Regions from separate parts of the Homo sapiens genome. Here regions 1 and 3 are each linked to region 2. The links come from fine-mapping of genetic effects on gene expression. A gene starts in region 2. Each other region holds a variant in brackets. All regions are shown on one strand. Distances are between the middles of the regions. Region 1 has its middle 43 kb from the start of RNASE1. Region 2 holds the start of RNASE6 (ribonuclease A family member 6). Region 3 overlaps LOC105370397 (a long non-coding RNA gene).

Evidence for each region. PIP is the estimated chance that this variant, and not a neighbour inherited with it, causes the effect. A credible set is the group of variants that fine-mapping cannot tell apart.
Region 1: its variant is the best candidate, but not a certain one, in a credible set for the expression of RNASE6 in lung (TOPMed, PIP 0.72).
Region 3: its variant is the best candidate, but not a certain one, in a credible set for the expression of RNASE6 in monocytes after interferon gamma (Fairfax 2014, PIP 0.75).

Annotation. Positions count from the first base shown.
Region 1 is chr14:20,840,738-20,851,527 of GRCh38, reverse strand. No RefSeq gene overlaps it. Among named protein-coding and RNA genes, the nearest start is that of RNASE1, 43 kb to the right of the region's middle. The variant G/A (reference allele first, on the strand shown) is at 4,687.
Region 2 is chr14:20,775,164-20,785,953 of GRCh38, reverse strand. It overlaps RNASE6 (ribonuclease A family member 6), which reads right to left and starts at 4,686. Exons shown (of 2, transcript NM_005615.5): 1 at 4,616-4,686; 2 at 3,487-4,259. The coding sequence starts at 4,254. The coding sequence ends at 3,802. All of the region lies in intron 1 of LOC107984671 (a long non-coding RNA gene), which reads left to right. RefSeq lists enhancers at 3,542-3,611, 10,416-10,790.
Region 3 is chr14:20,808,337-20,817,545 of GRCh38, reverse strand. It overlaps LOC105370397 (a long non-coding RNA gene), which reads right to left. Exons shown (of 4, transcript XR_007064063.1): 4 at 7,645-7,707. Among named protein-coding and RNA genes, the nearest start is that of RNASE1, 10 kb to the right of the region's middle. RefSeq lists an enhancer at 3,277-3,777. The variant C/T (reference allele first, on the strand shown) is at 5,027.

The sequences.
Region 1 (10,790 bases), 66 kb before region 2:
GATGTCAGTTGTGATCACCCAGGGAAGATGCTGTCAGTTATCTTCATTATATAATTGCTATTTTTTTCTCCATTTCTACTAATAAACAGTTTGTGGAGGGGATACATTAAGGTCTTGTAAACACCCTGTTTCTTTTCAAAATTTCCCCTAGATTGGCTGGGCGCAGTGGTTCATGCCTGTTATCCCCACAGTTTGGGAGGCCGAGGTGGGCAGATCCCTTGAGGTCAGGAGTTTGAGACCAGCCTGGCCAACATAGTGAAACCCCGTCTCTAGTTAAAAATGCAAAAATTACCCAGGTGTGGTGGTGCATGTCTGTAGTCCCAGCTACTCGGGAAGCTTGAGGCAGGAGAATCTCTTGAACCTGGTAGGTGGAGGTTGCAGTGAGCCGAGATTGTGCCACTGCACTCCAGCCTGGGTGACAGAGCAAGACTCCCATCTCAAAAAAAAAAATTCCCCTAGATTTAGCATGCATTGATAATTCTTGCTTAATCCACTTTTTGCTATGGTAGTGACAAAATGATAATTTTTAAGTTTCTGCATGCCACATTTAACAGCTAGCTTTCAGCTTTCTACTGTAAGCAAAACCCTATGTTCTTCACATTGGTTTATTTGTGTTTATATTAATTGCCAGTAGGACTCACAAATTTTTATTTTTTCAATGGCTTATAATTCACTATTGTAGTTAATATTTTGGTGCCCAAATAGTCCCAGTATTGGCCACTGAGATCCGTTTCAAGCTACCTTCCGTGTCTCTGTGATATGCTATCCTTTCTGCTTTCTCAGGACTTCATTTTTTTGCGGCATAGCAATATGTTCCAGCCTCATCTTGCACCTGCTCCACCTCAGTCATTTTCCTAAGGTGCCCTGATTTTTTAGTGGGGGGATGGTGTTAGAGACCAAGATCTTGGTAGGTGTGTTCTTTGCTGCTGGAGTGTCTTTGTTTCAAGGCTTTTTTAGTGAACAGAGTTAAGAAATATATGCCCGCATTTATCCACAAAAGAATGTACACATACATAAATGTGTATGCATATGTACATATACATATTTAAAAAATTATTAGTTTACAGAGATACCTTTAATTCAATCCATCCTCACAGGGTTCTTCCTTGCCTTCCTCCCTTCCATAATTGCATGTCCTTTCTTCCACAGCGTGATTAACAACATTAACCCTTGTACTTATTTGCTCACTCTTATAATAAATCAAAAGTAGTTTAAGAATGCTTTGTTCATACCACTATAGTAAACAAGATTGCTAAAAAAAGGTTCAGGATATGAACTTTTTTTCTACCCCCACTTCACTCACCCTGGTTAAGACTGCAGGTTTATACCTAAATAATAAAATCAGGAGAACTAATAAAAGTATTGCTTAGTAAGGCCAGGTGAGGTGGCTCATGCCTATAGTCTCAGCACTTTGGGAAGCTGGGGCAGTTGGATCACTTGAGGTCAGGAGTTCAAGACCAGCCTAGCTAACATAGCAAAACCCTGTCTCTACTAAAAATACAAAAATTAGCTGGGCATGATGGCTTGCACCTGTAGTCCCAGCTACTCAGGAGGCTGAGGCAGGAGAATAGCTTGAACCCAGGAGGCAGAGGTTGCAGTGAGCTGAGATCATGCCACTGCACTGTAGCCTGGGTGACAGAGGGAGACTCCATCTAAAAAAATAAAATAAAATAAAATAAAAAGTACTGTTTAGTAAGTGTGTTATGCAATAACAGATAACCAAAATGATGTTATTAGCTTTAGGTTATGCAGTGGCACTGGGGCTCAAATTCCTGCCTAAATTGGGGCCAATTTCCCTAAAGCCCATGCCTTTTTTTGTTATATTATGTTCCACAAAGTCACAGTTGACAAGTTAAGTGGGCATAGAATCAGGAGCAGCAAGAAGTGGGTTAGAGACTGAGATGATAACGGACGGACAGCCAGCCAGGCAGGTAGTTTTGGCCATCATGGAGAGAGCACTCTATTTTCTCCCCTTAGGCTGGCCATTGGGCATGATGGACAGATGACAAGGAGCATGCCCTAAGGAGCTGAAAGGTCAGTGAAAGTTCACTGCAAATCCAGGACCTCCCCCACAATAGCCTATTCCACCTACTCTTCGCTCTCAATCCAATTTTAAATACTTTTCTTTGGAAGGGGACATTTTTTGGAACTTGAGCAGCAGCTCAGAAATGTGAAACAAATACCCCACTGTTTGCTGAGAACTTAAGTCAATAATGATTTTATTATTCAGGCAAATAAGAGCTGCAACTCCGGTCATCTGAGCTGGCTGACCAGCTTCCAGCTCTGAAATAGCAATTTCAATGGTCTGCTTTTCTGAGGACAGGGCAAACTGGGGAGATTTGAGGCTGCCCAGTGAGGCTCCTCCAGGAGCCTGACAGGGATTAAGGGTTCAAGAAAGAGTTCAAAAGAAAGGGCACCACAGGGGAGCACAGGCAAGACTGCTGCTGCTCTCTCTTGGTAGTTTCCTTCCTCTCCCCGGCCGCCCTCTGTCTACCACACAGAAGGTTAGTACCCAAAGAACCTTCCAGGGCAAGAAAAGCTGCATTGTTTAAACACTTGTTCCTCCAGCTTTCATCCACCTCCTTCGTTTCCTTTCCACAAATTTCCATGTTCAGTGTTTCCCCTGGAAGACTCAGGCACTGCTGTGGCTCCCACAGTCACCCATGTGGAGAGATGATTAATTGTACACAGTGCCCCAAGTCTCTCAGAAACACCACTTTGAACTTCTCCCTGTCTGCTGCACCTTCCCCCAGTGTGACTCTCAGTGTGTCTGCAGTGACTCATAACCTTTGGAAGATGCCTTAAAGCAGGCTCTGCCCGCCTGGTATTCCTTGACATGTCCCCCTCCTTCTGTGCTGCTCTCCAGTTCTATATAAAGATAGAATGAGGGAACTGTCAGTCTATCTTTCCTGCCCAGTCAAAAACTTCAATCATTGTCACTCCTACTAATTCAGAATGTAAACTTAACTGTTTCTTTTTTGAGACAGTTTTGCTCTGTCACCCAGGCTGGAGTGCAGTGACTCAATCTCGGCTCATCGCAGCCTCTGCCTCCCAGGTTCAAGCGATTCTTCTGCCTCAGCCTCCCGAGTAGCTGGGATTACAGGCGCATGCCACTATACCCGGTTAATTGTCATATTTTTAGTAGAGACAAGGTTTCACCATGTTGGCTAGGCTGGTCTCGAACTCCTGACCTCAGGTGATCCACTTGCCTTGGCCTCCCAAAGTGCTGGGATTACAGGCATGAGCCGCCGTGCCAGCCAAACTTACCTGTTAATTGTGACCTTTTCAGAAGCTATATTAAACTGGTAATAATAACAATATAATGATATCTATGGAGAGCTTACTATGTGCTCTGAATAGGGTGCCCATCTAATTTACTGTCTGAACTGTGATACTTTTGAGAGTGAGAAGGAATACTACTAGTAATTAAGCCAGGACAGCAGCATACATAGAGCAGATCCTGGGCAAACTGGGACATATGGTTTCATAGCTGGGAACTTAAATCAATAATTATTTCATTATTCAGGCAAATAAGGCTGCAACTCTGATCACTGAGCTGGCTGAACTGTTCTAGATGCTTTACCTGGGTTATTTTATTTAGTTCACACAATAACCCTTTGAATAAGGTGCTTTAATTTACAGATAAAGAAACAAATTACAGAAGATCAAAAATCACTTATCTTTAAAATACTAAATCAGGACTTTTGTCTGTAAATCTGTACTCATCCAGAAAAATATCAGTCAGTATTACAGGAAAGATTAAAAAGGTGAACCGACTCTACACCCCTCTTTAAATCCACCCCCAATATACATATACATTTCAGTTATTCTTTATTATTGTTTTGTGAGTTATCCAGCTTGTCTGTTTTACAGATCACGGAGCTGGGGCCAGGTACGGTGGCTCATGCCTTTAATCCCAGAACTTTGGGAGGCCGAGGCGGGCGGATTGCCTGAGCTCAGGAGTTTGAGACCAGCTTGGGCGACACGGTGAAACCCTGTCTCTACTAAAAATACAAAAAAATTAGCCGGGCGTGGCAACGTATGCCTGTAGCCCCAGCTACTCGGGAGGCTGAGGCAGGAGAATTACTTGAAGCCTGGAGGTGGAGGTTGCAGTGAGCCGAGATCACACCACTGGACTGAAGCCTGGGCGACAGAGCGAGACTCCGTCTCAAAAAGAAAAACAAGAAATTACAGTTGTGATATACGTTGAATTACTTAAGAAATATTCTGGCCGGGCACGGTGGCTCACGCCTGTAATCCCAGCACTTTGGGAGGCCGAGGCGGGTGGATCACGAGGTCAGGAGATCGAGACCATCCTGGCTAACACGGTGAAACCCCGTCTCTACTAAAAATACAAAAAAAAATTAGCCGGGTGTGGTGGCGGGCGCCTGTAGTCCCAGCTACTGGGGAGGCTGAGGCAGGAGAATGGCGTGAACCTGGGAGGCGGAGCTTGCAGTGAGCCCAGATCGCGCCACTGCACTCCAGCCTGGGCGACAGAGCGAGACTCCGTCTCAAAAAAAAAAAAAAAAAAAAAGAAATATTCTGAGAGATGAATGTCATATTTTAATATGTGTAATGAATCTGAATACAGTAGCTGTGATTTAATGCACAGGAAGTGAGCCCTCTCAGTGACAGGTCACAGGTCATTCCGTACCAGTTATCTTTCCCCATGATCCAGACAACACA[G/A]GTGATGCACACATTCTCCGAACCCTGTTTCAGAACAAGTCTGAGGCAAAGGGGGATAGTGACTTAAGTTCCAGTTGTAGAAGTAGGTTCCATTGCTGAAAGGACCTTCCTCTTCTGTTCATATTCTTGGTCAACTTCCTTGTTTCTTGGCTGCGTCCGTTTCCATTTTGGTACCTACTTCCCTTCCTTTCTACCATTCTTTTTTTTTCTTTCTTTTTGAAGAGACAGAGTCTCACTCTGTCGCCCAGGCTCAAATGCGGGGGCATGATCTCAGCTCACTGCAACCTTCACCTCCCGGGTTCACTCAATTCTCTTGCCTTGCCTCCTGAGTAGCTGGGATTACAGATGCCTGCCACCACACCGGGCTACTTTTTGTATTTTTAGTAGAGATGAGGTTTCACCGTGTTGGCCAGGCTGGTCTCAAACTCCTGACCTCAGGCGATCCATCCACCTTGGCTTCCCAAAATGCTGGGATTATAGGCGTGAGCCACTGTGCCTGGCCTCCAACATTCTTATAGGTAGGACATTCTCCTGTACCTTTGCCTGTGAGCTGGATCCCATCTTTGCCCAGTTCCTGAGACTGTGCTGTATCTGTGCCCTGTATTTCCAGTGTCTTCTGTACTGACTCCTTAGGATATGGACAATCTCATGTCACCTTCTACGCAGCCTTCCGAAACTACTTACCAGTTGGCTCCTTCTCTTCATTGCCAAGCTCCTTGTTGACTCTGTTCCTTTAGCTCTAATATTCTCTTCAGCTGGAAAAAGGACGCTCTGAAACTACTGTAGCAAAGAATCCATGACCTCCTGATTTTCACATCTAATCATCTAATAAAATCTTTACTTCTTAAGCATTTTTTAAAAATTATAAGGTACATTATATAACACACACACACACAGTCACGCACACGTACCAGAGTGCCAAAATCATACATGTAGGCAAAGTTTAAAGAATATCTATGAGGCAGACACCCTTTTGACTTCTGCCAAGGTCAGAAACAGAACAATGGCAGTATTTCTGAAGCTCTCAACCATGTGCTCTTTCCTGACCACGGCACTTTCTTTCCCTCCAGAAAAAAAAAAAATTATGCTTGAGATAACAATTTCCTTTCTTCTTTTTATAATTATATCACTTATGTATCCGTCTCTAACCATTACAGTTTAATTTCACCTGTTCTTGAATGCTATATAAATAGAATCTCATTGTATATATATTTTTTGTGACTGAACTACCTTATGTTTATTCAATCCATTTATGTTGCTACAAGGGATATATTTTGTTCAATTTTATTGCCCTAAAGGATTCTAAAGCATGACTATGCTGCAATTTTTATCATTTCTATCTTTTCATTCTCCAGAGTTCTGAATTCTTACATTTTTGAAGTATTTCTTGTAAACATCATAGAGTTAGATTTTCCTCCATCAGTGTTGTGTTTTAACTGGACCATTTATATTTATTGCAATTATTCATCTCCATCTTCCTCAGTGTACATCTATCATCTATTTAGTCTTTTCTATTTGTCTCGTTTGTTTGGTATTTCTTTTTCGTCTCCTGTTTTCCCTTCTTTTGGATTAGTTGTGTATTTCTATATCACTCCATAAAAGCCATTAAGGCTAATCACAGGTGTTTAGTTCTCTTGTTCCAGGCACTTAGAAGGATCCTACTTCTTTGTCCCTTGTACTTAGATGTGACTACGTGACTTTCTGTGGTCAATTATGTGTGAGTAGAAGTCATGTATGTCCCTTCTTGCAGCAGGATCAAGAGTTGGCCTGCAGGTTACCATGCTTTCTTCCCTTTGCCTCTGTTACTGTGGAATTGTGTGTCAGGATGAAGCCTGTGTCAGCCTGTGTTCCCAAGTGACTATGGTAGGGAGAACCCCTTTGCTGGACCATGATGGACGTGTAGGAGAAATGAGTAATAAATCTTATGCCACTGACATTTTGAGGTTCTTTGTTACTGCAGCACAAGTAAGCCTATTCTAACTGATTCACATTTCACTTATTCTCTCTGCTAGTTTGGAATGTATACACGGTGTCTCTATTCCTTTAATTGTTTATCCTAGAAATTTCAGCATGCATACTAAACATATAAAAATCTATTATATTTTAAAAATCTAATTATTTTAAATATTAATTTTAAATAAAAATCTAATTCATATTTTAAATCATCTCTTGTACTTGACTGAATTTTTTTTCTTTTTTTTTTAGAGACAGGATCTTACTATGTCACCCGGGCTGGAGTGCAATGAAGTGATCATGGCTCACTGCAGCCTCTAACTCCAGGGCTCAAGTGATCCTCCTGCCTTGGCCTCCCAAAGTGCTGGGACTACAGTATGAGCCACTGCACCAGGCCCACTTGACTCAATTTATAACATTCTCAAATTGTTACTGCTGTTGTATATTTAATTTTAATTTTAATTTTATGTTTTTAATTCTATAAGACATTATTGCTTTATAGAGTCAAAAAATTTATATTTGCTCACATATTTATTTGTTTTTTATTTTCATTTATTTATTTATTTTTTTTTAGATGGAGTTTCACTCTGTTGCCCAGGCTGGAGTGCAGTGGCACAATCTGAGTTCACTGCAACCTCTGACTCCTAGGTTCAAGTGATTCTCCTGCCTCAGCCTCCCCAGTAGCTGAGATTACAGGTGTGCACCAGCACGCCTGGCTAATTTTTTGTATTTTTTAGTAAAGATGGGGCTTCACCATGTTGGCCAGGCTGGTCTCAAACTCCTGACCTCAAATGATTCACCCACCTCAGCCTCCCAAAGTGCTGGGATTACAGGCGTGAGCCACTGAGCCCAGCTGCTCACATATTTATTTATCATGCTTTGTTTTTTTTTTGTTTTTGTTTTTGTTTCTTTAGGAGACAGGATCTTGCTAATTTCCCCAGTTGGATTTGAACTCCTGAGCTCAAGTAATCCTCTGACTTTGGCCTCTTGAGAAGCTGGGATTACAGACACATACCACCACGCCCAGCTCTATCATGCTTTCTGTGTTTCATTCTTTCCTGAACTTCAGATTTCCATCGAGTAGCTTTTCTCTTCAGCCTGAAGTATATCCTTTGAAATTTCCTTTAGTGAAGGTCCACTAGTTATAAACTCTATTAGGTTTTTTTTGGTCTGAAAAAGTTTTATTTTACCTTCATTTTAAAGTGACATTTTTGCAGGTTAGATAATTTTAAGTTGGCTGTACTTTTCTCTCAGTCGTTTATTTATTTATTTTTTGAGACAGAGTCTCACTCTGTCTCCCAGGTGGGAGTGCAGTGGTGTGATCTTGGCTCACTGCAACCTCTGCCTCCTGGGTTCAAGCCATTCTCCTGCCTCAGCCTCCCAAGTGGCTGGGACCACAGGCGCCCACCACCACACCTGGCTAATTTTCATATTTTTAGTAGAGACAGTGTTTTACCATGTTGGCCAGGCTGGTCTCAAACTCCTGACCCCAAGTGATCCACCTGCCTTGGCCTCCCAAAGTGCTGGGATTACAGACATGAGCCACTGTACCCAGCCAGTAGTTTAAACATAATAGTTACTGTTTTCTGGTTTACCTGGTCTCTTGAGAAGTCAGAAATCAGTCTGTCATTTAATTGAAAGTAATCTTAAAAACCTTGGAGTTTATCTTTCTGATTATAGTAAATGTTCCTGTTGTGACTCTCATTTTTATAAATGAGTTGCCTAAGCAGAATCCCTAGAGTCATCATTTCTCAGGACTTCTGCACTTCTTCTGCTGTTGGACATTCCATTAGTAACAAAGGAAGATCCTGCAAGTCGCTTTATTGTCCTCTTTGCTATAACCTGGGATTCAAATGTCAACACTTTTGGGTATCCGTGAACATTTACGGACAAAGACTTGAGACTCAGAAAATAGGATACAATCATAAAACTTTTGATGTTAAACAGGAATTGATATTTCAAAAATTATTATTTCTTATGTCTTGTACTTGATATATGAAAATAAAAGCTCAGTCTATATTTTAGTTTGTCTAGGTTTGAATAGCGAATATATACTCCTTTCTAGCCTGAACTTAAACAAGTTAGTGAACTTCTCCAAGCTTGCTCAAGTGTAAAGCAGACATAATACTAGCATCTCTCTCTTACTGTTACTGGGAGTGTTCAAAAAAATTAAATTGCTACACAGGACAATGTAATCCTGTGTTCTATTTGACTTCCTCCTTTCTCTCATTGCCCTAAACCAATCAATCACCAAGTTCTGTAGATTTTTCTCTCTTCCATATCTTTAACTTCCACTGCTTTTCATTCTCACGGCTTATTTAGGGCCATCCACATTTCTCCTAGATCGTTTACTGTAATTGCCTCTTTGATAATCTCTCTGTGCCCAGGCTGGTCCCCACTTTAATCCATTCTCTACTTTACTGCCGGAGTGCTCTTTTTAAATAATAAGTCTGACACCCTATTTAAATGTCTTTATTCCTCAGGATTAAATTCCAGTTCACCCCTCTCCTCGGTCTGGTCCTTCCTTGCTCCCTTCTCCAGCCCCTGTAGACTTCTACTTCAGCCACGCAAGCAATCCAGGGCTTTCAGGGCCCACTGAGCCAGGTCCTCCTCGTTTACAGGCCATTGACGTGCTACTGGATTTGTCAGGAAAGTTCTTTCCCTCAACATTACATAACTCCTACTCATCTTTGGGTATGCACTCAGCTGTGACTTACCATAGGAAAAATTTCCTAAACCTGTCAGAGTGGGGTAAAGTGCTCCTTTGGGATCTTTAGCACCAGGAGTCTTCTCTTCTCCCCTCCCTTTCCTTCCTTCCTTCCTTTCCTTTCCTTTTCTTTCTTTTTTTTTTTTTTTTCAGAGTTTTGCTCTTGTTGCACAGGCTGGAGTGCAATGGCGTGATCTTGGCTCACTGCAACCTCTGCCTCCCGGGTTCAAGCAATTCTCATGCCTCAGCCTCCCGAGTAACTGGGATTATAGGCATGTGCCACCACACCCGGCTAATTTTGTGTTTTTAGTAGAGACAGGGTTTTTCCATGTTGGTCAGGCTGGTCTTGAACTCCCGACCTCAGGTGATCCGCCTGCCTTAGCCCCGCGAAGTGCTGGGATTACAGGTGTGAGCCACCGAGCCTGGCTTAGCTCTAGGAGTCTTTCACGTAACATTATAATTTCCTGTTTATTTGTTTATATTCCTCAACAGACTGCAAAATCACTGAAGGTAGGAACTGTGTCTCACTCACTCTTGTATCCCCAGTTCCTAACACAACCTCAACACTGGGGAAGCCCTCAATTAATGTTGGGTAAGTAAAGGTACTTATGACAAACTATTAGTTAGCATCCAAGTCCTGTCCTGTACTTATGCAACTGATTTTGTTTCAAGGGCACAAAATTTATACTTGTGAAATTTCTTGTTACTGGATATAATCCACTGCTTCAGACTGGTAAGAACTTTGGATCTTGATTCCATCATCCATGTTATTTGCTCTCCCTGACTATCATGTCATCTATTATTGTGATGAGATTTTGCATCTTCATCCAAGTCACCTGAAAATATGATGAATAAGATAGGCCTGTGGAGACAGGTCTGTGTCACATCATCACATGATCTGGTTTAACCAGTTAGGAAGGTAGTCATTGCATTGAGAGACTTTATCAAGTGCTTTGCAGAAGTAAAGATGCAAAATATTCTCCACATTTCCTAATTCTACCTAAGGCAGGAGATTAGATTAGTCTAACATGATTTCCATGTGAATCTGTGCTGTTATTTATTATCATGTTCACTACAAATCCAAGCAGTAAATCATTATTTTTAATACACTTGCCTGGAATGTTTCCTGGAATTAGTGTATTTTTTCTGGTTCCACCTACTTCTCATTTGTTTCTACTTCCTCTGGCCCTTTAACAGGCCAGAGCACCCAGGTATCATATCCAATCCTGTCTTTATCTTAGGGGATCTCTCAAGAATATCCCATTCATGTGCTTTTGTCCCAGTCATTCTTGTGCTCATCCTCATTCTCTGGTTTTGAATATTCTGCAACATACTTGTGAAGTGGCGTCATTTGTCTGGGGTAAATACCCGAGGTTCATCGTCTCCGTCTCGCATCAAGCAAATTGAGAATTCAGACAAAAGAAGTGGGTTTAGGGCCAGGCGC
Region 2 (10,790 bases):
ATCATTACTTTCCTGAGGCCCCAGTTCAAAATTCTCAGCCTGCCAGGTGTCGTCCTTCCTACTGAATTCCAGCCACCTGCCTCAGCCACAGCCAAAGGACAAGATCCATTGAATAGTCTAGAAGACCAGGAATCAACACACTTTGTTCTATAAAGGACCAGACAGTAAATATTTCACTTTTGTGGAACACATAGGGTCTGTGTCACTTCCTCTCCTTCTTCTTCCTCTTCTTCCCCTTCCTTCCCCTCCCTCACGTCTCTACTCCTTCCTTCTTCCTGTTCTTCCCCCCCTCCTCTTCCTCCTCCTTTTTCTTCTCCCCCTAAAAAAGTAAAAATCGGCCAAGCACGGTGGCTCACGCCTGTAATCCCAGCACTTTGGGAGGCCGAGGCGGGTGGATCACGAAGTCAGGAGATCAAGACCACGGTGAAACCCCGTCTCTACTAAAAATACAGAAAATTAGCCGGGCGTGGTGGCGGGCGCCTGTAGTCCCAGATACTCGGGAGGCTGAGGCAGGAGAATGGCGTGAACCCGGCAGGCAGAGCTTGCAGTGAACTGAGATCGCGCCACTGCACTCCAACCTGGGCGACAGAATGAGACTCCGTCTCAAAAAACAAACAAACAAACAAACAAACAAACAAACAAATTAGCTGGGCGTGGTGGCGGGTAATCCCAGCTACTCAGGCGGCTGAGGCAGGAGAATCGCTTGAATCCAGGAGGTGGAGGTTGCAGTGAGCCGAGATCCAGCCATTGCACTCCAGCCTGGGCGGCAGAGCCAAACTCCATCTCAAAAAAAAAAATAAAAGTAAAAACCACACTACTCCAGGCAGTATAAAATAGGCGCGGCAGGCCAGAGGTCTGCAGATGTAGTTTGCTTACCCCTGCATCAACAGTTGTTACCAATATTTGCTGCCCATTACAATTACATGGGGATCTTTAACAAACATCCATTAGAGCCCAGGTCTCACCCCCAGATATTCATTTAATTGTTCATTAAATGTTCATAAAATTTATTTAGTAGATCCCGTCATTGGTATTTTTCTAAAAGCTCCCAGGTGAATCTAATATGAAGCCAGAGTTGAGAGCTGCTAGAACATCTGCTGAATTCACTTCTAAGCTTTGCCTGCTTTGGGATCATTCTGTATATTCTAGGGATATATCTAAGTGAACTTCTTAGCAATTATGTATTGAACTTCTGCAATACATAACTGCATGTAGAAAAGAAAATAAATCTATGAGAGATTCCATCCCAGTCTATTCCACTTGTTTAGAACTAATACCTTCTAAAAGTTTGGGCATAATAGATTGTTGAAAAGTTACCCTCATTGTTGCCTTTTCCTTGATCAGCAACAAAAAGTGACTCTAATTGTTGTTGGGGATAGGTTTGTCATGGGAGGGTGGGGAAGATTAGATATTGTTGCTGCAAATCTCTTCAAAAGATGGCACTCATTATATTTTTGTTTTTAACCATTTGTTACAAAATATTTGCAGTATTTTAGACCTCACAATTTATTTCACTAATTTTAAGTAACATTTCATGTTCCCTAATGTTTCTGACAGTTGAAAAATTTTTGCAGCACAGATGTATTCAATCCATGAGATACCTTTACTATATAAATAACAATAGCATGAGCAATTGAGTTGTTTGGTTTTACTAGATTACCTTTAAGAATCTCTGGCAATTTCCAGGTAATGTTCATATAAATCCATTCAACCCCTTTCCTTTCAGATGCTGCTACTTTCGTATACTTGTTCATACCAAACGTGAGCACAGATTCTCCCTGCCATTCCACCACACTTTACATGAAGACTCTGAGACAATAAAATGTAAATGCAACATGGCTTAAAGCTGAATACAACTGAAAGCTGCTTTGAGTTAGAGCACTCAAGTCCCACTGTAGGATTCCCTCTATAAGGTACCCACCTTCTTAGGTGCCATATTGCCCTGACCTGCTAATCTCTTCCCAATGGGAGGGCCCTTGATCAGTCATCACCCTGGAATCCAGGCTCCTGAAACCTCATATTCCATTCTTTGTTCCTAAGATATGACATAAATGTGTAGCGTAAAGGAAGGTGAGCTGAGTTAGCATATCTATTAAACTAATAGTCTGGCTTGGAAAGAATCATTTGCAGCACAGGTAATGAAGACACTACAATATGTAGCCTTTTCAAAAAAACTTCATTGTCTTTGGCTGCTACTTGAAGACTCATCACTGTACAAAGCACTTGGGATTTACACTGGCCCACTAGCCCAATGACTCTAGAGGTTGACAAGGAAACTGAAGTTCCTTCTGTGAAATGGCTTAGTTCAGGTTCTGTTCCAAAACCCCAATACTTCTGTGGTATTTCAGTATTTACATAGGACTAGAATGTTTTTAGTTTCCTAGTGCTTTTTTCTCTTTCTTTCTTTCCTTTTTTTTTTTTTTTTTTTGAGACGGGAGTTTCGCTCTGTCACCCAGGCTGGAGTGCAGTGGTGCAATCTCGGCTCACTACAGCCTCTGCCTCCCAGGTTCAAGCGATTCTCTTGCCTCAGGCTCCTGATTAGCTGGGATTACAGGCTCCTGCCATCATGTCTGGCTAATTTTTTGTATTTTTAGTAGAGATGGGGTTTCACCACATTGGCCAGGCTGGTCTCAAACTCTTGGCCTCAAGTCGTCTGCCTGCCTCGGCCTCCCAAAGTGCTGGGATTACTGGTGTGAGCCACTGCATTGGGTCTCCTGGTGCTTTTCTCTTTTTCTTTTTTTGTTTTTGAGATGGGAGTCTCACTCTGTTGCCCAGGCTGGAGTGCAGTGACACAATATTTGCTCACTGCAACTTCTACCTCCTGGGTTCAAGCGATTCTCCTGCCTCAGCCTCCCGAGTAGCTGGGATTACAGGCACTGCCACCACGCCCAGCTACTTTTTTTGTATCTTTAGTAGAGATAGCGTTTCACCATGTTGGCCAGGCTGGTCTTGAACTCCTGACCTCAGACGATCCACCTGCCTCAGCCTCCTAAAGTGCTGGGATTACAGGCGTGAGCCACCACGACAAGCCTAGTGCTTTTTTCTTGATCTATGCTTTCTATTTATCCATTTCAATAAATAATGGAGGATTGACCCTAAGGTTACTACAATGGATTATTATCCCTATTACTACTACTATCACCTTATATTTAAAACATTATCTGATTAAAAACGGAAACAAATAGAAAAGACATAGGATCCTTCAGTTGCCAGTGACAGAATCTATGTGTGAGTTATCATCAACTGTCTTTGAGGTATCAGTACTACCTCCAATTAAGCATAGACAATGGTTTCCAGGGGAATATATAAAGTCATGAGCAGAGTTTGAAGAAATGCTCCAAAGTCCCAAACGCTGTCCTTTCTTGTGGGCAAGGAAGTGGGGCCCCAGGGAGGCCTCAAAAGTTTTCTAGGGACTTAAAGTCAAAACAGTGTTCCTCTGAGTACCGGTCAACAATGCTTTGAAAGCGGATCTCAAACACACACTCATTAGAATGCAGCAGGAAGTGGTTTTATTGCTGTGAACACAGGGCAATAAAGCTTGGCAAAAGTTGCAGGGTTAGAAATCTGAATCTTTCTTTGCTGTCTTCCCTATTCCCTTCTCTCGAAAAGTACAGAACTACAAAGCAGAAAATAATCTTATTTCTTTTTGTCTCAACTCTGGTCTGGCATCCTAGGCACTCGAATTCTCCAAACACCTTTCTTCTTTCTTCTACGGGAACAAGAAAATCAACAAAAGAAAAGAAAACATGGATGCAATTGTAACAGAAGCTATGTCAAATGAAAGGAAATGCAGTGGATGCCTTAGAGAATACTATCTAAGTGTACAGGAACCAACTTGTAGGGGGGATCGCTCTTCTGAGGGGGGTCACAGGCAACAATGAAGAATTTGTACTGGGCAGCAGCACTATAGCGGCACTGGGGATACTTTCCTGAAGTGAGTCTGCAGTCAGTCATGTTGACAGGCTTTGAGCTCTGGTGGCAGTTGTGCCGACGATTTTTGCAGACAATGCTGAGCAAATCACAGACAGCAGCCACATTCTGGAAAGAGTCATGCAGAAAGGTATTTTGATGCTTACAGTGCTGGGTATAATTGTTGATGCCACTCATTGCCCTGTTGCATTGGAGAGGACTTGGCTGTATATGCTGAATTTCAAACCAGTGAGCCTTGGTGAGACGCTTAGGCCAAGCATGAAGTGGACACACTGGTCCCCATAGAACCAGCAGCAGTAAAAGAAGAGGAAAGCATAGCACCATCTTTTCTGTGTAGAAAGAGAGAAGATAGTTATAGTAGGAGAAGCAATAAGAGCAAAATTTTTAATCATAACTATTTAGATTTTTATTTTGCCTTTTAAGATTTTACAGCTCCCTTTAAAATCTTCTTTCTCACATAGTCTCACAATTCTATGAAGAACCTGAAGCCCAGGAAACAGAAATATGACCTCTCCTTTGATTGGCATATCCCATTTTCTTTCACAAGTACTCATGCATTTGATGGCTGTCATATCAGAAAGTTTCTTCCCTCTTCCCTCCTGAAATATTTACCCTCTATCTGACCACTACCTCCCAGCCGTCTTTACTGCTCTACTCGCTCCAGCCCTGAGGCTTTCTTTCTTACCTGGTCTCAGTGTTGGGGCTCCTGCTGAGAACAGAGGCTGTGATTAGTCCAAAGCTCAGAAGCTGTTGTCTGCCTTTCTTCTCTAACCCTTCGAGCCCTGTGTGTATAGGGAAGGGGAAGAAATATTCTGAGCTTTCAGAAGGAGAATCCTAGGGTTTGGCAGATTAACTTCTTGTGCAGAGTCTGGATTAAACTCTTAGACTTTCACACCTGTTCTTTAAAACAGTATCATTATCACATGTATACAGGAAGGCTAAACCAACTTAAAGAAACAACATGACTGAAAACTCACAGTTTTGAGGAACTGATCACTTCCTGATATGGAATGAGTGCTTCCTGCCTCATCTGAGGCTTCAGTGTTTTTTTTTGAAGCTTTATGATTCCTGTTTCTTAAGAGAAAATATGTCACATAAATATGATATAATGCCTGCCACATACTTGGTAATGTTGTAAGTTCCTACAACAGAAGTGAATACATTATTCATTTATGCATATACTTATTGGGCCAGGTACTAGGCTACACAAATTCAGGAGCTCATGAGTTTTTTTTTTTTTTTTTTTTGAGACGGAGTCTTGCTCTGTCGCCCAGGCTGGAGTGCAGTGGTGCGATCTTTGCTCACTGCAAGCTCCACCTCCTGGGTTCATGCCATTCTCCTGCCTCAGCCTCCCGAGTAGCTGGGACTACAGGTGCCTGCCATCACGCCCAGCTAATTTTTTTGTATTTTTAGTAGAGACGGGGTTTCACTGTGTTAGCCAGGATGGTCTCTATCTCCTGACCTCGTGATCTGCCAGGAGCTCATGATTTAATGAAAGAGATTAGAGACAGGCAGGTAAGTATATAGACAAGTAGATTATATTAATATAAATAGCACTTACAGTGTGATGGAGGACACTGCAGGAGGCTACGGGAAGATAGTAGAGGGGAAGGATTGTTGGAGGGCACAACACCTGAACTGAATTTTGAGGAATAATTAGAAGTTAGGTGAAGAGAGTGTTAAGCGCCTCCCAAAGACAGAATTGTGTATGAAAAGACCTGTAAGCCTGAAGAAGAAGGCCGAATTTAGGATATTTGCCTCTTGAATCTGTTCTTACCTTTTCACTGGTACTGCAACACCCTTATTCAGAAACTCATTGTCTTATGGAGGGCTCACATAAAAGCCTCCCACATGGACTCCTTGCCTTGTTTTTTTCTCCTTCCAATCCATTCTACATATTACTTCCAGATTAGTCTTTTTTTGAACAAGATATAATAGTACAACACTCTTGCCCCATGCTTTTATGGCTCCAAATGTCTGCAGAATAAACATAATGTCTGTTTATAGCAAGGTTGCAGGATACAAGGTTAATATACAAAAGTCAGTTGCTTTCTTATATACCAGCAATGAACAATTGCAATTTGATATTTAAAACACAATACCATTTATATTGCACCAAAGAAAGTGAAATACTTAGGTGTAAATCTAATACATTATGTAAAAATTGGTATGAGGAAAAATTTAAAACTCTAATGAAAGAAATTGAGGAAGCACAGATATTCCATGTACATGAGTAGGAATACTCAATATGTTAAGATGTCATTTCCTCTCAACTTGATCTATAGATTCAGCACAATCTCAATCAATATCCCAGCACATTATTTTGTGGATAGTGACAAACTGACTCTGAAGTTTATATAAAAGTAAAAGATTCAGGTTGGACACGGTGGCTCACGCCTGTAATCCCAGCACTTTGGGAGGCCGAGGCAGGCTGATCACGAGGTCAAGAGATCAAGACCATCCTGGCTAACACAGTGAAACCCCGTTTCTACTAAAAATACAAAAAATTAGCCAGGCCTGGTGGCGGGCGCCTATAGTACCAGCTACTTGGGAGGCTGAGGCACGAGAATCGCTTGAACCCGGGAGGTGGAGCTTGCAGTGAGCCGAGATCGCACCACTGCACTCCAGCCTGGGTGACAGAGCGAGACTCTGTCTCAAAAAAAAAAAAGATTCAGAATAGTCAACACAATGCAGAAAAAGAAGAACAAAGTCAGAAAACTGACGTGACCCAACTTCAAAACTTACTATAAAGCTACAGCAATTAAGACAGTGTGTTATTGGTGAAAAATAGACAAATAGGTCAATGGAACCAAGTAGAAAGCCCAGAGGTAGACCCACACAAATACAGTGAACTAATCTGTGACAAAGGATCAATTTTCAATTGAGAAAAGTTAGTCTTTTCAACAAATGGTAGTAGAACTGAATGTACACATGCAAAAAATAAATCTTTTCATAGGTTAGACTTCATACATTTTCATAGACCTGTACTTTATATCTTTCACAATTTTTTTTTGAGATGGAGTTTCGCTTTTGTTGCCCAGGCTGGAGTGCAATGGCATGATCTTAGCTCACCACAACCTCTGCCGCTCAGGTTCAAGTGATTCTCCTGCCTCAGCCTCCGGAGTAGTTGGGATTACAGGCATGCACCACTACACCCAGCTAATTTTGTATTTTTAGTAGAGACAGGGTTTCACCATGTTGGTGAGGCTGGCCTCGAACTCCTGACCTCAGGTGATCCGCCCACCTCGGCCTCCCAAAGTGCTGGGATTACAGGCGTGAGCCACCGCGCCTGGCACAAATGTTAATTCAAAATGGACCATAGACCTAATGCAAAATACAAAACTACAAAAATTCTAGAAAATAACATAGAAGAAAATCTAGGCAGCCTTGAGTTTGGCAATGATTTTTTAGATACAATACCAAAAGCACAATCCATGAAAGAAAAATATTGATAAGTGGAACTTCATTAAAATTGAAAACTTCTGCTCTGCAACAGATACTATTAAGAGAATAAAAAGATAAGCCAGAGACTGAGAGAAGATATTTGCAAAAGATATATCTGATAAAAGAACATTATCCAAAATATACAAAGAACTCAAAAAACCTCAACCATAAGAAAACCAACAACCTAGTTGAAAAATGGGCAAAACATCTGAATGGTATGGGGCAAAGACAATTTTTCCTCTCCCTCTGAAGGTTCAAAACTTCTGAAATGAACTGACAATAGACAGATTAACAGGAGAAAAAGGCATACAAATTTATTACTGTGCATAATCATGGGAACCATACAAATTATGAGACTCAAAGAAAGACTAAATAGTTGAAATTCATGTATTCTCTTCATAGGGGAGAGGAACATGGGGAAAATGTAGGCAATTTTGAGGAGTTTTAAATATTTTTTAGGGAACTGGCCCCAAATAGCAGACAATAGTTTGTAAATGAGTCTCTTTGGAAGCTGAATGGAAGGGTGACGAGTTATGGGAAGGTGAAGGGTGGAACTGCACTATGAACAAAGGTTGCCTTATTATACAGATAAAGTCTCTTAGGTACTCTTTTGGAGCTGCTCTTGGAAGAATAGATGAAAGGTCTATCTGAGTGTGGTGTGAAGAGACTTCTAGTCTCTTCTTTTTTTCAGGTGGCTAATATTTCCTGGTTATCTGATGAGATTTTTAGAAAGGGGGGTCTTAAGACAATTGCATTTCTTGGAAGAAGTTTTCCTTATCCAGACAAGGGAACTTCCAGAGAGAGCTCCTCTCTGCATTTGAGAGCTGGGGGAGGAATGAGAGAAGATTAGAACATCTTTGGTCCTGAGGCAGCTTCTAAGAAGTTTTGGTTTCTTTAATTCTTTAATTCTAGTTAAATTTAATTCTTTAATTTAATTTCTTTAATTCAAAAGTGCTCAGAATGCCATGCATCATAGTTTGTAGTATGATTCTCTGTACCCCAACACTTCACCAAACAAGATATACAGATGGCAGATGAGCAATGAAAAGATGTTCAGCATCACATTGTTTGGAGAAAAACTTTTCCTCTATCATTTTAGGTTTTAAAGGTGGTGGTAAAGGAGCTTGTGAATTAGAAAAAGATTAATAGGAGAAAATTCAAAGTTTATTTACACATGCACACAGGAGTATTACATAATGCGTAACTTGCTGAATAGCCAGAGGTAAAGTTATATATCAACTTTAAAAAAAGTGTTTTTGGCCAAGTGCAGTGGCTCATGCCTGTAATCCTAACATTCTGGGAGACTGAGGCAGGAGGATCACTTGAGGCATGGAGTTTGAAACCAACAGCATAGCAAGACCCCCATCTCTATTTTTTAAAAAAAGATTTGGCCGGGCATGGTGGCTCACACCTGTAATCCCAGCACTTTGGGAGGCCAATGTGGGCAGATCACCTGAGGTCAGGAGTTTGAGACCATCCTGGCCAACATGGTAAAACCCCGTCTCTACTAAAAATACAAAATTTAGTCAGGCATGGTGGTGGGCACCTGTAATCCCAGCTACTCGGGAGGCCGAGGCAGGAGAATCTCTTGAACCTGGCAGGCGGAGGTTGCAGTGAGACAAGGTTGCGCCACTGCACTCCAGCCTGGGCAACAAGAGTGAAAGTCTGTCTCAAAAATAAAATAAAATAAAAAATAAAAGATTTTTGTTGGGGCTTCAAAAGGAAAATATGGAAGGTTCTAGTAAGCTTTCTGATGCTAATAGAAATGGGTAGATTGATTTCTTCCTGGCTGGAAGTTTCCCTGTATGGGGGTTTATGGAAGCTAATTTACACATCCCAGTGCTAAGGGGCTGTCTCGTTTCAAACAGGAAAATACCTTTGAAGGGGATCAATGGCAGCTGAATTTTCAAGAGGCTCTGGTTAAGTTTAAATAGTGTTTCTTTCTGCAGCTTCTGTCTGTTCAGACATTTTCAGTTTAAAATAATTTTCATGCCACTATCATCATAACAGATTTGTTACTTGATGCACAACAAATGGATATATTAAGAAAACAGGGATTGAAAAAGAGAGAGTTTAATTTTCATAGGGCAGCCAAATGAGTAGATGGGAGGTAACCTACAATTTGGTTTTGGGTTTGGGGATAGGGTTTTTAAGGAGTCTGGACAAGGGCCAAAATGTGAGCATTTCTGATTCATCAAGAAGTGAGAGGTGAAGTCATGGGACAGGGACATGAAGAAACTCAGCATTCATGTGCCAAGCCAGTTCCTTGGTAGGGGTCTTTAGACTGGTTAGCATTAGCTGTTGCACTGGAATTCAGGATCAGAAAAACACCTTAAGCAATTCTTAAGCAAAAAGATTTCATGATTCTAGTATTGGAGATTCTACCTATAGGAACAATCGGGGAGTAGGTGGTCAGCATGCTACTTGGGAAATTAGAAGCTACAGGGAAGTGGGTTGAAGTGTACCAGCATGCTATGATTAATGTGCAATTCTGCCTAGAGCCTGGCTTGCAACACTCCATAACTCTGCAAGGGCAGTTTTGCCATATTGGTGGGCTGTGAATCCCTTCAATCTGTCATTAGAAAATTGCAAATTAAAACAATGGGATAATACTACACACCTACATGAATGACTAAAATGCAGTGAAAACTGACATCATCAAAGCCAGTAAGGATGCAGAGCAGCAAAAATGCTAATTGACAGGACTTTCAACCTGGAGGCATATTTTGGGGTGACATATTCTTGTTTCCTATGAGACTTCAGTTAGGCTAGCTTGGATCTCATAACCATCGCTTGGCTCAGTAGAGGGGACTGCAGACCTTAGTGGACAGCCTCACCAATACTACACACAAAAGAGGAAGGGTAGATACCTAAGGAGAGTCAATATGCAGCTATCCAAATAAGGGGTGGACCACCGGGAAAGCCAGAGAAACAACACAAAGCTATTACTAATTGCCCTTAAATCTACTTTCCTCCTATACTATTTTGAACAACCATCTGCTAACCCTTTAATAAAAGCAAGTTTTAAAGAGTTACTTAAATGAGGTATTTGTGAGAATCTACTATAGGAGACCAGAATATGCCACCCCAAAATATGCTTCTTTATTATGAATATTATTTTGAACTGCTTATTTTGAGAAGCAGTATACACAAGACAAACTCTGAAAATAGAGTGCACGTTGCTGTTTTGTAAGGGACATTTGCGTTTATAAGGGAAATCTTCATTTGTAAGGATGTCTCCCTTTCTTCACCAGAAAGAGAAAGGTGACTCTAAATCAAAAGAAACCCTTATCAGCGGAGAAGGTACTGACTTAAATCTGCATGAGAAAGCTTTCCCTTGTTTACTGTACTTTTCCTGGTCATCCCCCTGTAAGTTGCTCCCCGACATGCTTCTTCCTTTGCTTTAGCGGAAGGCA
Region 3 (9,209 bases), 32 kb before region 2:
CCATCTTAGAGATTGTTGTTCTTTACTCTTTAGGGGATAATACTAAGACACAGGGAGGTCACAAGACTTGACCTCAGTCACCAAGTGACCTACTGGCAAAGGCATCAAGACCCAGCTTGTGGAGGGGGCTGGGTTATGTGTGGGGCTTGTAGAAAACAAATCCCACACCTTAGTGCAGAAACACAGATACCCACACTTTTCCTCACATGTGTATGTGCTAAGTAGGATACCCGCTTCTGCTCACATAAAACAACCAGAGCTCTGCTGAGGTCTGCTTTTTAGCATCTGTATGAGAGATATAAATAGGTAAAAGAAAAAGAAAAATAGGAAGTAGAGTTGAGTTTGGGGCAGAACCAGAATGGCAGAGAGAGGTTGAAGATTGGCCCTTCTCCATTTTTTGGGATCTTTCTCTCTCGTCTCTCTCTCCTTCTCTCTCTCTCTCTGTCTCTCTGGGTGTCTCTCTCTGTCTCTCTTTCTGGCTATCTCTCTGTCTGTCTCTCTCTGTCTCTTTCTCTCTCTCTCCTGCAAGGAGCTGCTCTCCTCTCTCCTTTCTTCCGTTTGGACCTCTGTGAGGTGTGTGTGTGTGTGTGTGTGTGTGTTTCTGTCTCTCTCTCTCTCTCTCTCTCTCTCTCTCTCTCTCTCTTGCAAGAAGCTGCTCTCCTCTGTCCTTTCCTCTGTTTGGACCTCTTTCTCTGTGTGTGTGTGTGTCTGTCTGTCTTTCTGTCTCTATCTCTCTGTGTCTCGCTCTTTTTCTCTCTCTCTCAAAAAAAAAAAAAAAAAAAAAAAAAGATTGGCTGTTCTGGAGAAGTGACAACTGTCAGGCCTCTAAGCCCAAGCTAAACCATCATATGCCCTGTGACCTGCACGTATACATCCAGATGGCCTGAAACAACTGAAGATCCACAAAAGAAGTGAAAATAGCCTTAACTGATGACATTCCACCATTGTGATTTGTTTCTGCCCCACCCTAACTGATAGATGTACTTTGTAATCTCCCCCACCCTTAAGAAGGTATTCTTTTCAAGGTCCTGTTTCACTTGCCTCCATAGCCATTGTGGATATTGACGGCCAGGCTGCTAAACCTCTTAAAACTCCCCAACTCTGGTGCCAACTTGGACAACATTCTTTTATGCACTCCTTTTAAGTTATCCCCACCTGCCCACCTCCCTTATTATGTCGAGACTTTTTAACTAAATTATCTGCTTCCCTGACTATTCCTGGGCTACAGCCACACCTCATTGCCACCCTTTTCCCCAGTTCAAAGCCTCCTTCGCATCCTTCCCCTTGTATCTCTCCACCTTAATCCACAAGTATGGGATACCTCTACTCCCTCCTTGGCAACCGATCATGCACCCCTTGTCATCCCATTAAAACCTAATCACCCTTACCCTGCTCAACACCAGTATCCCATCCCACAGCAGGCTTTAAAAGGATTAAAGCCTGTTATCAGTTGCTTGTTACAGCATGGCCTTTTATACAGGTTAGTTCAGGATTTGCACCTTATCAACCAAATTGTCTTGCCTATCCACCCCGTGGTGCCAAACCCATATACTCTCCTACCCTCAATACCTCCCAGCCTCACAGGCCCATTCTATTCTGTCGTTGTTTCATAACCCCTTCCATGTAGGTTACAAGCCACTAGCCCGCCTCTTAGAACCTCTCATTTCCTTTCCATTGTGGAAATCTATCCTCAAGGAAATCACTTCTCAGTGTTCCATCTTCTATTCTACTACTCCTCAGGGATTATTCAGGCCCCCTCCCTTCCCTACACACCAAGCTCGGGGATTTGCCCCTGCCCAGGACTGGCAAATTGACTTTACTCACATGCCCCGAGTCAGGAAACTAGAAAACCTCTTGGTCTGGGTAGACACTTTCACTGGATGGGTAGAGACCTTTCCCACAGGGTCTGAGAAGGCCACCGCAGTCATTTCTTCCCTTCTGTCAGACACAATTCCTCGGTTTGGCCTTCCCACCTCTATACAGTCCGATAACGGACCAGCCTTTATTAGTCAAATCACCCAAGCAGTTTCTCAGGCTCTTGGTATTCAGTGGAAACTTCATAACCCTTACCATCCTCAATCTTCAGGAAAGGTAGAACGGACTAATGGTCTTTTCAAAACACACCTCGCCAAGCTCAGCCTCCAACTTAGCAAAAAGGACTCTGTCAAAAATAGAGCCCAAAAATTCACCAACCAAACAAGTAATTACACTGAACCTCCTTGGACACTCTCTAATTGGACGTCCTGGGTCCTCCCAATTCTTAGTCCTTTAATACCTGTTTTTCTCCTTCTCTTATTCAGACCTTGTGTCTTTTGTTTGGTTTCTCAATTCATACAAAACCGCAACCAGGCCATCACCAATAATTCTATACAACAAATGCTCCTTCTAACAACCCCACAATATCACCCCTTACCCCAAAATCTTTCTTCAGTTAAATCTCTCCCGCTGTAGGTTCCCACACCACCCCTAGTTCCGCTCGACGCAGCCCTGAGAAACATCGCCCATTATCTCTCCATACCACCCCCCAAAATTTTTGCCGCCCCAACACTTCACCACTAGTTTGTTTTGTTTTTCTTATTAATATAAGAAGACAGGAATGTCAGGCCTCTGAGCCCAAGCTAAGCCATCATACCCCCGTGACCTACAGGTATACATCCAGGTGGCCTGAAGCAACTGAAGATCCACAAAAGAAGTGAAAATAGCCTTAACTGATGGCATTCCACCATTGTGATTTGTCTCTGCCCCACCCTGACTGATCAATGTACTTTGTAACCTCCCCACCCTTAAGAAGGTTCTTTGTAATCTCCCCACCCTTGAGAATGTACTTCGTGAGATCCACTCCCTGCCCTCAAAACATCGCTCCTAACTCCACCGCCTATCCCAAAACCTGTAAGAACCGATGATAATCCCATCACCCTTTGCTGACTCCTTTTTCAGACTCAGCCCACCTGCACCCAGGTGAAATAAACAGCCTTGTTGCTCACATAAAGCCTGTTGGTGGACTCCCTTCATACAGACGTGTGTGACACGAACCATGTTCAGTGGGCAGGAATTCAGCCAGATTGGATTGGAGTGATGGAAGCAGGTCAGACAATGGGTCAGAAGGCTGAATTTAGTGACAGATAACAGGCTCCATTTAAGCAAATGTGAGTCTTGTTCTCTAAATGAGATAACACTGGCCTCTCTTCACCTTGATAGACCTGATAGGCTCCCCCATCCATGTGCTTTGTCCCTTGGCAATATGTCCTCCTATGGGAAAAGAGGTACTGTCATGCCATTGTGAGAGTCCTCAAGATTAACAGAAGGAGGAGGCAGGAGATGGCAGATGTGAAAGGAAACATTGCTTTCTTTTTCTTTTTTTTTCTTTTTTTTTTTTTTTGAGATAGAGTCTCACTCTATCACCTAGGCTGGAGTGCAGTGGCATGATCTCAGATCACTGCAACCTCCACCCCCTGGGTTCAAGCAATTCTCCTGCCTCGGCCTCCCTAGAGGCTGGGATTACAGACATGTGCTCCCACGCCCGGCTTATTTTGGTATTTTTAGTAGAGACAGGGTTTCGCCATGTTGGCCAGGCTGGTCTCTAACTCCTGACCTCAAGTGATCTGCCCACCTGGGCCTCCCAAAGTGCTAGGATTACAGGCATGCACCACTGCGCCCAGCCAGAAACATTTCTAAGCAATGATTTTCCTCCAGACCTTGCTTCCTTGATGAAGCCAGCATGTGAGACCTCTTCAAAGAGAGGGAGGCTACTGCTTGGAGCAGGTGTCCTCCTAGAGGCCTCGTCCCCCTAAGAAGGCTTCCCTTCCTCCAGTGTCGCATTGGAATCAACAAATGCCCCCATGGACTGAAGAGCGGGAGGCCTGACCTGCTCACCCACACTCCAGCTGCGCCAGTGAAGGGCCCCTAATGAGACCTCAGTAGGAGTCCCCAATCCTCCAACTCCTCAGAAGGGGTCAGCAGCAAAGCCATCTGTTTTCTCCCACCACAATTCCCAGCAGGAAGAGATGTGGGGGGACTCTAGGGGAAATCCAGACCTAAAAGAAGAGATCAGTTTCACCATAAGTTCAGCCCTTTGAGTGCACATCCTGGAGGCAGTCTCCCCACTTGAAGCATACTTGCCAGCATGGTATAGTGAGAATGCTGCCACAGAGTGGGGAAGCCAGGGACCGAGGATGCTTTCCACCTCTGCTGCCAAGGTGCTGTCTGACCTTGGTCTGCCCCGGCTCTCAGTCTCCTCCAATGGGCGGAAGTTACTTTCCATTGCTTGGGTCTTTTTGTTCCTTGAGTTCAAAGGTAAATGTCCATATTTTCTTTCACGTGGGAGTCCTGGTCAAAAGTTCATACTTTGACGACCTCAGCAATAAGCTCTTAGAGGGGCTGGGGCAGGTGGGCTGTCCCTTAGGGAAGGGATGAGAGGCACTGGTGCCTGATCTAGAGGTGAATGGTGGTGTTGGGTTGAGTCAGGGATAGGAAAAGTTCTCAGAAAATGGATGAAGTCAAGAGACCACTGAACAACCCAGGCTGAAAGGGAATCAGGTCTTCTGTAATCAGGAACCAGAGATAACGAAGTCTCTATCTTTCTATAGACACCCTGGCAACATTTGATTTCCATTTTAAAAGACCAGGGCTGGTCTGTGGGGTGGGAAGGGACCTATGGAGAGTGAGGAAAACTGGTAGTGTCAGGAGGCTGGGATGGTGGCACCAGAGGAGGTGGAGGCCCCCTGTGTGTTCTGGAGACCAGATTGTTGACTGCACCTGGTGTGCTCACAGGCCAGTCAGAGCCACTGTCTGGGAAAGTAGAACCTGTGCTTGGTGGGCCTCAGCCAAGGGCTCAGGCATCAGAACCTCTTTCTCTCCCAGTTCATACTGTGGGGTGGGGGTGGGGTGGGATTGGGGGTGGGAGTGGAAGCCTAATGGACAGAGAGGTGGAGAGTCTTATAAAAGGGGAATAAACACAGGAATGATAGCCAGCACAGCCACGGTTGCCTTTTCCCCTTCAGTAATTGGTTTGTCACATGAGGCAAAA[C/T]GTTGCAATGTGGACGGGAGACAGAAATTAGGAAAAACTTGCATAATGTTTCACTGGGGAGGGGGTTTCTCAGTTGAGGCCCATAAATGCTTAGTTTTGGATTGGGCTTGAGGGGCTATACTGTCTCCTAAGAGACTCTTTAGCCCATAGGATCATAAAATCTCCCAAGCTCCTGCAGTTCAAATTGACCTTTGCTCCAGTCAGGAAAACTGTGTAGATTGGGACGGGGGCAGATGTGTTTCCTGAGAGAACATGGGAGGGGTGGGCCTTCCCACAGCCTGTCTCTGAGGAGGTTCCTTGGGGCCCTGAGCCCTTGGGTGTGGTGTAGCTCTAACCGTCTAGGGCTGCCTTTGGCTTTAGGAGGATTTCAGGGATTCATTTCCAGGCACTCTGTGAAAAGGGCAAAAATGTACTTCCCTTCATATCCTCACCGAAGCCTGGCAGCAGGCCAGTCACTGGTGCGGTTTCCTGACATGACTGTGGTCTGGGGAGACCACCTTGAACTCTGAAGTTTGTCCTCCCTTCAAAAATTCAAACTTGGGACCTGGATAGCCCAGTCATGCTCAGTGACAGAGAAGTTGGCATTTTGGGAAAAGTACTAAGAAATCTGATGTCTTCACTGCAGAGTCACTTTCTAAGGAGGAGACTCAGGCTCCCAAGAACATGAGGTAGGCCAGTTGCACTCATACCTTCTGGAGCCCACCAGACTCCAGCTCCTTGTTTCTCACCTTCCTGCAATTGGATGTTTCCCCCTCACACCATTCCTTCGCACTCAGGCTTATCACAAGTTTCTGCAAAGAGATTTTGGGGAGCCAGCAGATGCTCTCCCGAAGAAAATGATTCAGCTATATCCACCCTCACTGAGTGAAGTCCTTTTAAATAGGAGCTACATTTTTTTTTTTTTTTGAGACAGTGTCGCTCTGTCACCCAGGCTGGAGTGTAGTGGTGTGATTTCGGCTCACTGCAACTTCTGCCTCCCCAGTTCAAGCGATTCTCCTGCCTCAGCCTCCTGAGTTGCTGGGATTACAGGCATGCACCACTATGCCTGGCTAATTTTTGTATTTTTGGTAGAGACGGGGGTTTCACCATGTTGGCCAGGCTGGTCTTGAACTCCTGACCTCATGATCTGCCCACCTCAGCCTCCCAAAGTGCTGGGATTACAGGCGTGAGCCACCGTGCCTGGCCCTGACTGGGTTCTAAATGATTCTGGATTCTTAAGAATAAAAGACAGACAGACAGACAGTCTCTGTATAGATGTGTGGAAGAAGCCAGACAGGGAAGGAGCTCAGGAAGGAGAGGCTGAGAACTGAAGACGAAGCACAGCTTTTCTGAAGCTGCATTCCTGCCCCTCACATACCTTCAAACGCCCTCAGACTCAGACATACTTCCTCAGACATGGCTGAGAATGAACTCTTAAATGTATCTGTCCCAAATTCTTTAATGTCTGAGGCCACTGAGAGACAGAAGAGAGAAAGAGTCCCCAGACGGAGGGAACTTAAGATGGAGGTCTCTGACTCTGCCACTTCCACTGTAGCCTCTTGCCCAGTTCTGCTCCTTGATCCATCATAGGTCAGCATTAGCCAGTAAGTGGCCTAAGCGCACACGATTCAGGGAAGAGGACTCTGCAGGCCAGAAATGAGCTTCCTACAAAAGAGGAAGAGTTGGTTGGGTGTGATGGCTCACACCTGTAATCCCAGCACTTTGGGAGGCCAAGGCGGGCGGATCGCTTGAGGTCGGGAGTTCAAGACGAGCTGGGCCAACATGGCGAAACCCCATCTCTACTAAAAAGAAAACCCCACAAAAATTAGCCAGGCATGGTGGCAGGTGCCTGTAATCTCAGCTACTCAGGAGGCTGAGGCAGGAGAATTGCTTGAACCCGGGAGGCAGACGTTTCAGTGAGCTGAGATGGGCAACAGCTGTCTCAAAAATAAAAAATAAAAAAATAAAAAATAAAGGGAATGAGTTGAGGGATGTCATCTTGGCTGTTATCCTACTTTATCTTCATGGGCATCTGGGTTGTAGGCAATGGGTGAGAGGCGTGGGACAGCACGGGCTTCGGATCTTTTTTAGCTGGTTCTTGCATTCTTTCCCCTCACTTCCTTCAACTTTCAAACACCACTCCGCTCCCTTTGTCTGCCCCCACTGTTCCGTCTTTTCCTGTTCTAATTTTCCTTTGCCTTCTCACTTTCTGGGGTTCAAAAGGAATCCCGGAATATCATCTATTGTATGTGTGTGTGCATATTGTATGTACGTGCATGCAGGGTGTGTGTGTGCTCGTACATGTGTATTTGGGGGGCTGTGCTGAGCTTTTGTAGCCAGCCTAATGATAGGACATCCTTCAGATTATCTGAGCTTTTCTTGTAAAAACGTCCTTACCCTGTACATACCCACTTCCTTATTCTTCTAAAGAGCTTGTGGAAATGAGCACAGCCACCCAAATGAGAATAAGCAAAGGCTGTTTATTCAGAGTTGGCCACAGATGGCAGGTAACCACCATCACTTGCATTTGGCAGACACTCACAGTAGGCAGGAGAGTGGGAATCTTCACAATGGAAAACAGGAAAGGCTTCAGGGATGCTCTGGTTGCAGGCTGCGGCATGCAGAAGCTGTAAGTGGGCTACTGGAAGCAGGGCATCCTATGTGTTGGATTAGGGATGCATATTGGCTTTCTCTGATTGGTCCTAATTTGGGGAAGCGGAAATAAATATTAGGGAACTTTTCAGTTATTAATCAAGTCCATAAAGAGAGACTTTCAAGCAAGGAAAAAATTAAGAAATAAAATAGGGGTAATCAAGTCCTAGCTGTTTGGGGCCAATTGCTATAGGAGTTGTTTGGCTTCCTGGATTGTTTGCTGTATATAGTGGGTTGGCTTCTCATACTTATTGCTGGAGACTACAGGTCAGAGTTCCATCTTTATATATGGTCTGGTCATTGTTCATTTGTATGGTCAGTCTTTCAGTCCCTCCTTTTGGTCATTCTCTGACTTCTGAGAAGTTGACCAACTCAGAGAAAGTTAGAATTTCACATCTTCACCAATCATAAATTGTTCAGTCATCTTCATAGTGACCTGGATTGTAAGATCTTCTTGATCTTTCTATTGTATCATTATGGCAATCATCTGATGACAGAGTGGCTGCTAGAAGCATTTAAAACTCTGGATAAAACGGAACAGACTAGCATCATGACCACTATCAGAAAAATAAGAAACAATTGATAGTCCCTCTGAGATGCTTTAGAACCAGGAACTCCAATTGCTTAACCTAGGCCAAGAAAACAAATCCCATAAGCCATGAGGACCTTAGAGATCCAAATATTAATAGGTTTTTTTTTGAAGCAATATAGTCTTTTTTTTTTTTAACCTTGCCTGTGTCCTTGACCTAAGTATCACAAGAAGCACTGGCAATGGTGCAGACAAAATCGAAGTGGCCTTCCAACTGTGTGGAATTTTGAATCTCTTCTTCAGTTGTGAAACATGAACCCAAAGGTTGGCTCCTTGGAGTTTCACTGCTGTATCTATTGTTAACAGTATCTGATAAGATCTCTTCCTTTTGAATGAAGTTCAAAAGCAGTTATTCTCTGATTTTTCTTCCAGTAGACAAATCCACTAGTTGAGGATCATGGAGAGGTTGTTTAGGAAGATTTTGTAGGAAGGGGACCTTAACCTGTTGGTGATAGGACCACGTACAATACATGAGTCCCTTGCAGTATCTTGTCATGTCTGCATGGAGTAGGACAGACTCTAGTATTGGAGGTGAAATCTCTAAATGCATGGACCTTCCCGGTATCAACTCATAGGGGGATAACCTATGTGTCTCCAAGAAAGTGGCCTGTATATCCGTAAAGGATAGTGGATATACTCTTGGTCAAGGGAGCTCAAGGGTTTCTGAAATTGTTGCTTATTTTAATGTAAGGATGCCATGGGTCGTTTTTGTGGGTGGTAAGGATGGTGTAGTTTTTGAGTAAGAGTTCTTTTATAAAGGTCGCCTTAAAGTGTGTGCCTCAGTCACTTGATATAAAAGGTGGGATGCCCCAGATTGAAAACATAAAATCAAGCAGCTTGTTCACGGCTGTAAGGGCTGTAGCATTTTGGCAAAGAAATTCTTCAACTCATCCTGAAAACAGACATACAATATCTAAAACATATTCAAATCCCAGGGAGAGTGAAAGCCGGTGAAGTGTCTTG